2 linked regions of the Homo sapiens genome follow. The protein of the gene in region 2 interacts with the protein of the main gene of each other region in a biochemical or structural test. Each region holds a gene or a part of one and is shown on either strand. Other genes may lie near its edges.

Region 1 (3,822 bases), on a different chromosome or scaffold from region 2:
TGGTTAAAAAGATACTAATAAGTTTTTGTGCGTGTAACATTTGACACCAGGCTTTTAAGTAAAACACCCTAAGATGGAACTTACTGTGTAGTGGAAAGAGTTAGACTCACTAGACATTGATTAGCTGACTGACATAGAGCGTTTCTTATCAGTCAACAAAACTATTTCCAGAGAGGCTTGAAATAAAACAGTTGACTTTATGTAGATTATGGTTAATATCTTTTGCAGATTTTCTAAGAAATCTTTCCCTATCAGAGGTCCCCAAAACATTCCTTTATCATTTTCCTTCTAAATCTTTTATACATGCTTAAGAAATATGCACATGCTCTAAATTGGGGGAACATGATCCTTTATGTATTAATTGAATCAACTTTGGTTACCATGTTGTTCTATTTACTTTTTTGCTGCTCGAGCTAAAAATTGAGTGACTTCAAATACAACATAATAGTTTTTTTTTCCGTTTTGCCCTCTACATTTTTACTTTAATAACTTTGTTTAGAACTGTTATACCTACTTCAGTTGAAATTTTTATTATTTTTGAGAGTCTCCTTATCCTTATTAATGCTTTTCACTTTAATATTTGTAAGGCTAATACTGATACAGCTATCCTAACCAGGTATATTTGCTTGTTTTATTTTCCCTAATTCTACTTTTTGTCTTTCTCTGTCCTTGTACTGTCTTTTGTAAACTGTATATATTGAACAAGGTAGACTTTTTTTTTTATTAATCTGGTGAGATAGGCAATTTATATTTATTGTAACCATTTATTATATACTATGCCATTTCTTTGCTTTTTCTATGCTTTTTCTTCCTTCTTGCATTTTTGTGGTCTATCAAAGTTGGGATTTCTAAAGTGTTTTTCCCTTATTTCAGAATGTTTCCTCTCTACTGGTTTGAAAGTTATATTGTATTGCTATTCTTTAAAGGTTATCTGAAAATTTTCTGTTAAGTACTTAGATTAACAACATCTAAAGTCATTCATTATCTTAACTTCCATCCTAAAGAGTATCAGGATCTTGGAGCACTCACACTAACTTCTAAGTGCTCCCGGACACTTTCCCCACATATACATTTCCTGAGTTATGTAAAATGTTGCTAGTATTTTAATTACGCTCTTTTTTACTCCACAGAGTAAATACTTCTTAATATAGACAGTATTTATTTACATTTCCCATGATTACTGATTTTTTAGCTCACCATACCTTCTTGCATCTCAGACTTTCCTCCTAGTCATTTTGCTGTACTCTAAAATTCATCTTTATTCTTAAGTGAAAGTCCCTTGTTTGTAAATTCTCATTTTGAGAAAAAAGTGTTTTTAATATACCCTTGATTTTGAAAGATAATTTCACTGGGCACTCATTCTATTGAGTTATTCTCTCAGTACCTTAATGATGTTATTCCACTGTCTTTTGCCTTCCAGTTTTGGCACTGAAAAGTCTACTGTTGGCCAGGTGCAGTGGCTCATGCCTCTAATCCCAGCATTTTGGGAGGCCAAGGCAGGTAGATCACCTGAAGTCAGGAGTTCGAGAACAGCCTGGCCAACATGGCAAAATCACGTCTTTACTAAAAATACAAAAAAATTAGCCAGGTTGTGGTGGCGCACACCTGTACTCCCAGCTACTCGGGAGGCTGAGGCAGGAGAATCAATTGAACCCGGGAAATGGAGGTTGCAGTGAGCAGAAATCACACCACTGCACTCCATCATGGGTGACAGAGCAAGACTCTGTCTCAAAAAAAAAAAAAAAAAAAAAAGGTCTGTCAATTCGTTATTCCTTTAAAAGTGGATAAGTTATTCTGGCTGCTTTTAAGATATCTTTGCCTTTATTGTTCTGAAGTTTGAGTATAATGAATATACATTGGCTTCCTTTTCCTGGTTGATATACATTTTGCTTCTTGTATATGTGGATCCACTTTTTTTTTTTTTAGACAGGGTACAGTGGCACCATCATAGCTCACTGCAGCCTTGAACTCCTGGGCTCGTGTGATCCTCCCTCCTCAGCCTCTTGAGTAGCTGGGACCACAGGTGTGTGCCACCATGCCTGGCTAATTTTTGTATTTTTTGTACAGATGGAGTTTCACCATGTTGCTCAGGCTGGTCTTAAACTCTTGGGCTCAAGTGATCCTCCCACTTGAGCCTCCCAAGTAGCTGGGACTACTGGTTCATGTCACCACATCTGGCTAATTCTTAATTTTTTTTGTAGAGATGGAGTGGGGGCTCTTGCTTCATTTCCCAGGTTGATCTCAAACTCCTGGCTTCAAGTGATCCTTCTGCTTTGGCCTCCCAAAATGCTGTGATTACAGGCATAAGCCACCATACCAGGTCCCAGGCTTTTCTTAGCTCTGGAAATTTGTCAGCAATTACCTCAATTTTTTTCTATTTTTTACTTCTTAGACTCCAATCAGCACATATTAAACCTTCCCATTCTATCCTTCAGGTCTCATAATCTCTAATTCTTATTTTCTATCCCTTTACCTGTTTTTGCTGCAATATGTTGTTTCCTCAGTTAAAACTTGATAGTCAACAATTCCTTTAGTTGTGGTGAATCTGCTCTTAAACCATTCATTATGTTATATATTTCAATAATTAAATTTCATACCTAAGTTGTCTTTGGTTCTTTTTAATATCTGCCTTTTAACACATCTCTCATTTCATGTTCGTTTTAATTCATACATTATTTAAACATATAACTGTTATTCTACTTCTGCTAATTGCAATACCTGAATTCCTTGAATATCTAAATCTACTGTTTCTCAATGCAAATGGTGTGTTTCCTTGCATGTTTGATTAATCTAGAAGCATTAATTAGGGAGGCTTTCCTTCGGAGGGGATTTTCATCCACTTCTTAGAGTAACCACCAGAGTCCACTGACTTAGGACTACTTTAATGCTTTAAAGCATTCCTGGTTTTATGAAGGAATCTTAGGTTCACTTTCTTTACTTTGCCTGGAGTCCATGGCTTAAGTCTCAGAGGCACAGTTTTCCTGTTTCTCAACTACTTTAATTTTAGCCCACTCTCATTGGTAATAGCCTTTAGTGATTATCTTTCTTTCTAATGAGCCAGGAAATGAACTAATATTATGTGTGTTGTATTTTATCCAAGAACTAACTGTATTTTAGCAGGAGGATCCTTGAGTATACCTAGTCAACCATATGGCAGGAAGCAGAAATCATCTACTTCGTAGTTGATTTTGGTAATTTGCATTTTTCATATAAATTATTCATTTTCTGTTTTGTGATATATTGGCATAAAGTTGTTTATAGTGTCTTATTATTTTAAAATCTATGTTTGGTTATTTATCTGTACTTTCATTCCTAAATTTTTTATGTCTTCTGTTTTTTTCCAAATCGGTTTCACCAAGTTATGTGTACTTTATTTATTTAAAGAGACCAACTTTTGTTTAAATTGATCCTCTCAAAAAAAAAAAAATTGATACTCTCTTCTATAGTATAGGTTTATACTCCAGGGGTCAACCAACATTTTCGGTAAAGGGCCAGAAATTTTAAAATTGAAAAATGCAGGAATCAATATGAAACACTTAATTGATAGGCTCAATAGCAGAATGGAAGCTACTGCAGAAAGAATGAATAAATCTGAAGATAAAATGATAGAAATTACACAGTCTGAACAACAGAAGAAAACAGGCAGAACAAAGATGAACAGAACCTCAGGGACTTACGGAACTACAATAAATCTAACATTTGTGTCATCAGAGTCTCAAAAGAAAGAAGAAAGAAGGAAGACTGAAAAAGTTCTTGAAAAAAATGACAGCTGAAAACTCCCCAAAATTGGCAAAAGACATAAACATATAGATGGTGAGAAGA
Region 2 (3,822 bases):
ACCTTGCTTTGCTGACCAGGAAACATGCTGTGACAAGCTGAGCGGCCATCTGCTATACAGCTTTCTGCCTCTGAGGTGTTCTTAGAGTGGGAAGTGTTGTAGGGAGGTGTTTGGGGGTTCCCAAGACTACCCTCAACTTCACTGATTCACTGGAAGGATGCACAGAACTGTTACACGTATGGTGATGGTTTCTTACAATGAAAAGATGCTGATTAAAACCATCAAATGAAAAAAGTGCATAGGGCAGCGTCCAGGGGAAACCAGGCACAAGCTTCCAGTTGTCCTCTCCCCATGGAGTCATGTGGACAACACTTCTCCAAGCAGTGCGTGACAACACACACAGAGTATTGTCAACCAAGGACCCTCACTTAAGCCTGGGTGTCCAGAGTTTTTTGGGGAGTCTGTCACATAGGCATGGCTGAGTATAGTCTCCAACCCCACCAGAGGTCAAGCTGATAACGTGTAGCCCAAGGCCACCATCATATATCACATTGTTAGCATAGTCTGTCTGACCTGGTCTAAGCTTAGGCTCACTTGAGCAAGGACACTCTTATCAGGCAGGATATTCCAAAAACAAGGAACCAGGCTAGGGCCACACCTCTCTTTGGAATGTGGAGTGTATGGACAACCCAGAGCTGCTGAGCTAGCCTTTTGCTCAGCCCCAGGTTGGCCTGCACACAGACGGCGAGGGGCACCAGCACTACCGCCTTTGCCCTTGGTGGTTTTTCCTGCACCCTAAGACCCGATTTGTCTCTGAATCCACCCCATACTCCAGCTGCCACAGTCAGAGCCCCGGGTTTGAGCATCTGCCATGGGTGCTCACGTATCCCTGCCAAGGCTTGTGCCTGTGCACACTCCCTTGGGAAGGGAGAGATGGAACAAAGATAAATTTCAGATTTCTAGATTCAGCTCACTGACTCCAGATTGGCCTCCGTCTACTTATGATGAACCTCATTTATCAGAACCTGAGTTTACGAGCTCAGTATGAGAAACACAGTATTGATGCCCTTCCGTCAGGAACCTGGGGAGGTCTCGGTCACGGAAGCCCACCTGATGTTATAAGATGTGTTGGCTGCGAGTTGCAGTTGAGATCTGTTGGTCACTGCTGCCCTTTGAAGGCCTTAGTGACATCCTGTGGGTGTTCCCTGCCGAGTCCTGTGGGTAGCCCCGCTCACTCCCCACACGGTTCCTCTGCCCCTGCACAAGCTGCACCCTCTGCCTGGTGCCCTTGCCCCACCCCAACTCTTCGTTGTGATTTGTTTTTAGGAAAACTAAGTCCAAATGGACAGGACCCCCAACTTTCTGACTGCCTAACTTCTCAGTCTCTCCTCCAGCCTCAACAGGGAGCCTCTCTGACCCCCACCTTAAGCTAAACAAAGAGTCTGCAGGGAGAGGTGACTCTGTGTGTGTATGTGTTTGTGTGCACGCGTGCAGTAGCTTTAGTTTCTGCCTCCCCCACAGGACTGTAAGCTCAGTGAAGCAAGGACTCATCTGCCTTTCTTGGATTCCGAGCATTGCAATGTTGTCAACAAATGAAAAGCTGAGATTGAACCTCACTCATCTTGCTCTCTGTTAGACTGTAAACACCATCAGGACAGAGACTTGGGATTGTTTCGTGGACAAAGAGAGAACTCTTGTTGGGGTTCAAGGGAGTAAGAAGGGCATCACCTGTAATGCTTAGTAATCACTGAAACAAGGAAGCACTTTGCATGTGCGTCCTTTACACTGAGGGCACCTGCGGAGCTCACTCCCCTAGCAGCCACCCAAGTCCGTTCAGGGACCTCATTCTCCCACGGGAAGTTGGAGAAGATGGGCCGTGGCTCTGCGGAGGGGGGTGTGGACCTGCCTCGGTACCTGGAGCGGTTGAGGCCTGTCTTGGTGGTGGCTGGGGCACAGGTGTCTGCCTGGCCTGTCCTTACAGACTGTCAGTGTTCTCTTTCCTGGTATTTTGGTGTTTGCTCTGTCAAACCCTTCTTCCTCATTGGTTGGAACTAGGTCACAAGCACATTAAGTCCGGTCATTTCCTCTGCCTTCTGGGGGTGGATTTTAGCAGAAGAAACAACTCCTCCCTTGCTGGCCTCATGACCTCTGGTGAACACTAGCTTTCAGCAAACAGAAACTTCCAGAGGCCAGAGCAGCACTCAGTCGCCTGGCCTTCCAGCCTCACAGGCAAGATAAGCCACCCTCACAGACTTCTCTGTGCTCCCATCTAAACATCTAAATCAGCCATCTGGTTTCCTTAACAGTAGCACAGACTCTGGGAGTTTGAGAGAATGTGTCTCTTGTGAATAAGAGAAAATAAGTCCATACTGGGGAAGGTAGCTCTCCAAATTGAGATGAGGAGGTCAGGGTGGGAGGGTGAGTGGTCGTGGGTTGGCCCTGATGGGAGGAGCTCACCATCAGGGAAGCTGAGGACCTCCCTCCTAATGTGACAGCAGAGTCTTGGCCACCTCTTCATTCCCCAGTCCCCAACCTGGCTGCTCTGAGTGTCTTTCCAGCTACTGGAAAGCTTCTTCTGCAGCCTGCAAAGCTAGCTGGAACTGGACTGTCAGAAAAACATGTAGATGCTGGAGAAAATCTGTTAATCCTAACGTATAGCTCTGCCTTATTCCAGAGAAGACCGCAGTGTGGACATGAAGATGATAAACTTGAGGTGATGGAAGGAGCAGAAATGCCAGATACATTAGCAGCTCTTTTTTCTTTTGAAAACTAGCCCTTGCAAGATTTGCTTGACATACTGAGTGACACTATCCAGAAAACATCTTTTTTTTACTTAAAAAAGGCTGATGGTTTGTTCAGACATCTCTTGTGAACTAGTGAAAAACATAAACGTTGAAAGCTGTAAAATTCAGCAGTTCTAAGTTTATTTCCAGCAAGAGTTAAACAAAGTTTAATAGTAAATTCAACCAACCAGTGTTTTAGCTTTTTGCCTATACATTATGTTTTTAAATTTCACCCATTAAACAAGGACTCAGGTTACACATTGATTCCTTAAGGACTTTAAGGAAGCCACAACCATTTATTTATAGTTGCATTTTGCTCTTCAGGTTTCCAGGATGTTTAAAATTTTTTTTGACTTTGTTTTTAGGCATCAAGAGAGAATATATCTAAAAAACATTTGCATAGTTAGTGTAATTGCTAAGCCACAGGGTGATGGGTGGATAGATTCAGAGGAAGGCAGCTGAGGGCAGAGGCTGCCTGACAGAGCAGGAAAAATGAAGCTCGAGAGCCTTCTGGCTGGAAAGGCAGCTCACAGATGGGCCGCAGCTGTAGATCAGTTCTGAACTAGGGACTGAAGCAAGTTTGTCGTAAATAAAGGAAAGTGGTAGTGTTGATGTTGTGAATGTATATCCACAACCAGAACCATCAGCTCTGGAGGGACCATCAGGCTGCCACTGTGGCCACAGAGCATCACTCACGTCTCCATTGGGCAGATTTGCAGAGACTCAGCAGTGAACAGAGCAAGTCCCTGCCTCGTGGAGCTCATATGCTGTGAGCGGTGGCTCATGCCTGTAATCCCAGCACTTTGGGAGGCCGAGGCGGGTGGTTCGAGACCAGCCGGGCCAACATGGTGAAACCCCGTCTCTACCAAAAATACAAAAAACTAGCCAGGCATGGTGGCAGGCGCCTGGAATCCCAGCTACTCAGGAGACTGAGGCAGGAGAATCGCTTGAACACAGGAGGCAGAAGTTGCAGTGAGCTAATATCACGCCACTGCACTCCAGCCTGGGTGACAGAGCAAGACTCCATCTCAAAACAGAAAAGGAGGTGGAGAAGAGGGGTAGTGGTTGGAAGAAGGAATTCTCCTTTAGGGAAGATGTC

The links.
Region 1: the proteins of SNAP29 (region 2) and STX7 form a complex in vitro, tested with the Homo sapiens proteins (one study listed by BioGRID).

What each region holds. Positions count from the first base shown.
Region 1 is NC_000006.12:132,447,108-132,450,929, forward strand, and holds part of STX7 (syntaxin-7), read right to left. Parts: 3' UTR 1-3,822. UniProt on the Homo sapiens protein: May be involved in protein trafficking from the plasma membrane to the early endosome (EE) as well as in homotypic fusion of endocytic organelles. Mediates the endocytic trafficking from early endosomes to late endosomes and lysosomes.
Region 2 is NC_000022.11:20,865,507-20,869,328, forward strand, and holds part of SNAP29 (synaptosomal-associated protein 29), read left to right. Parts: intron 1-3,822. UniProt on the Homo sapiens protein: SNAREs, soluble N-ethylmaleimide-sensitive factor-attachment protein receptors, are essential proteins for fusion of cellular membranes.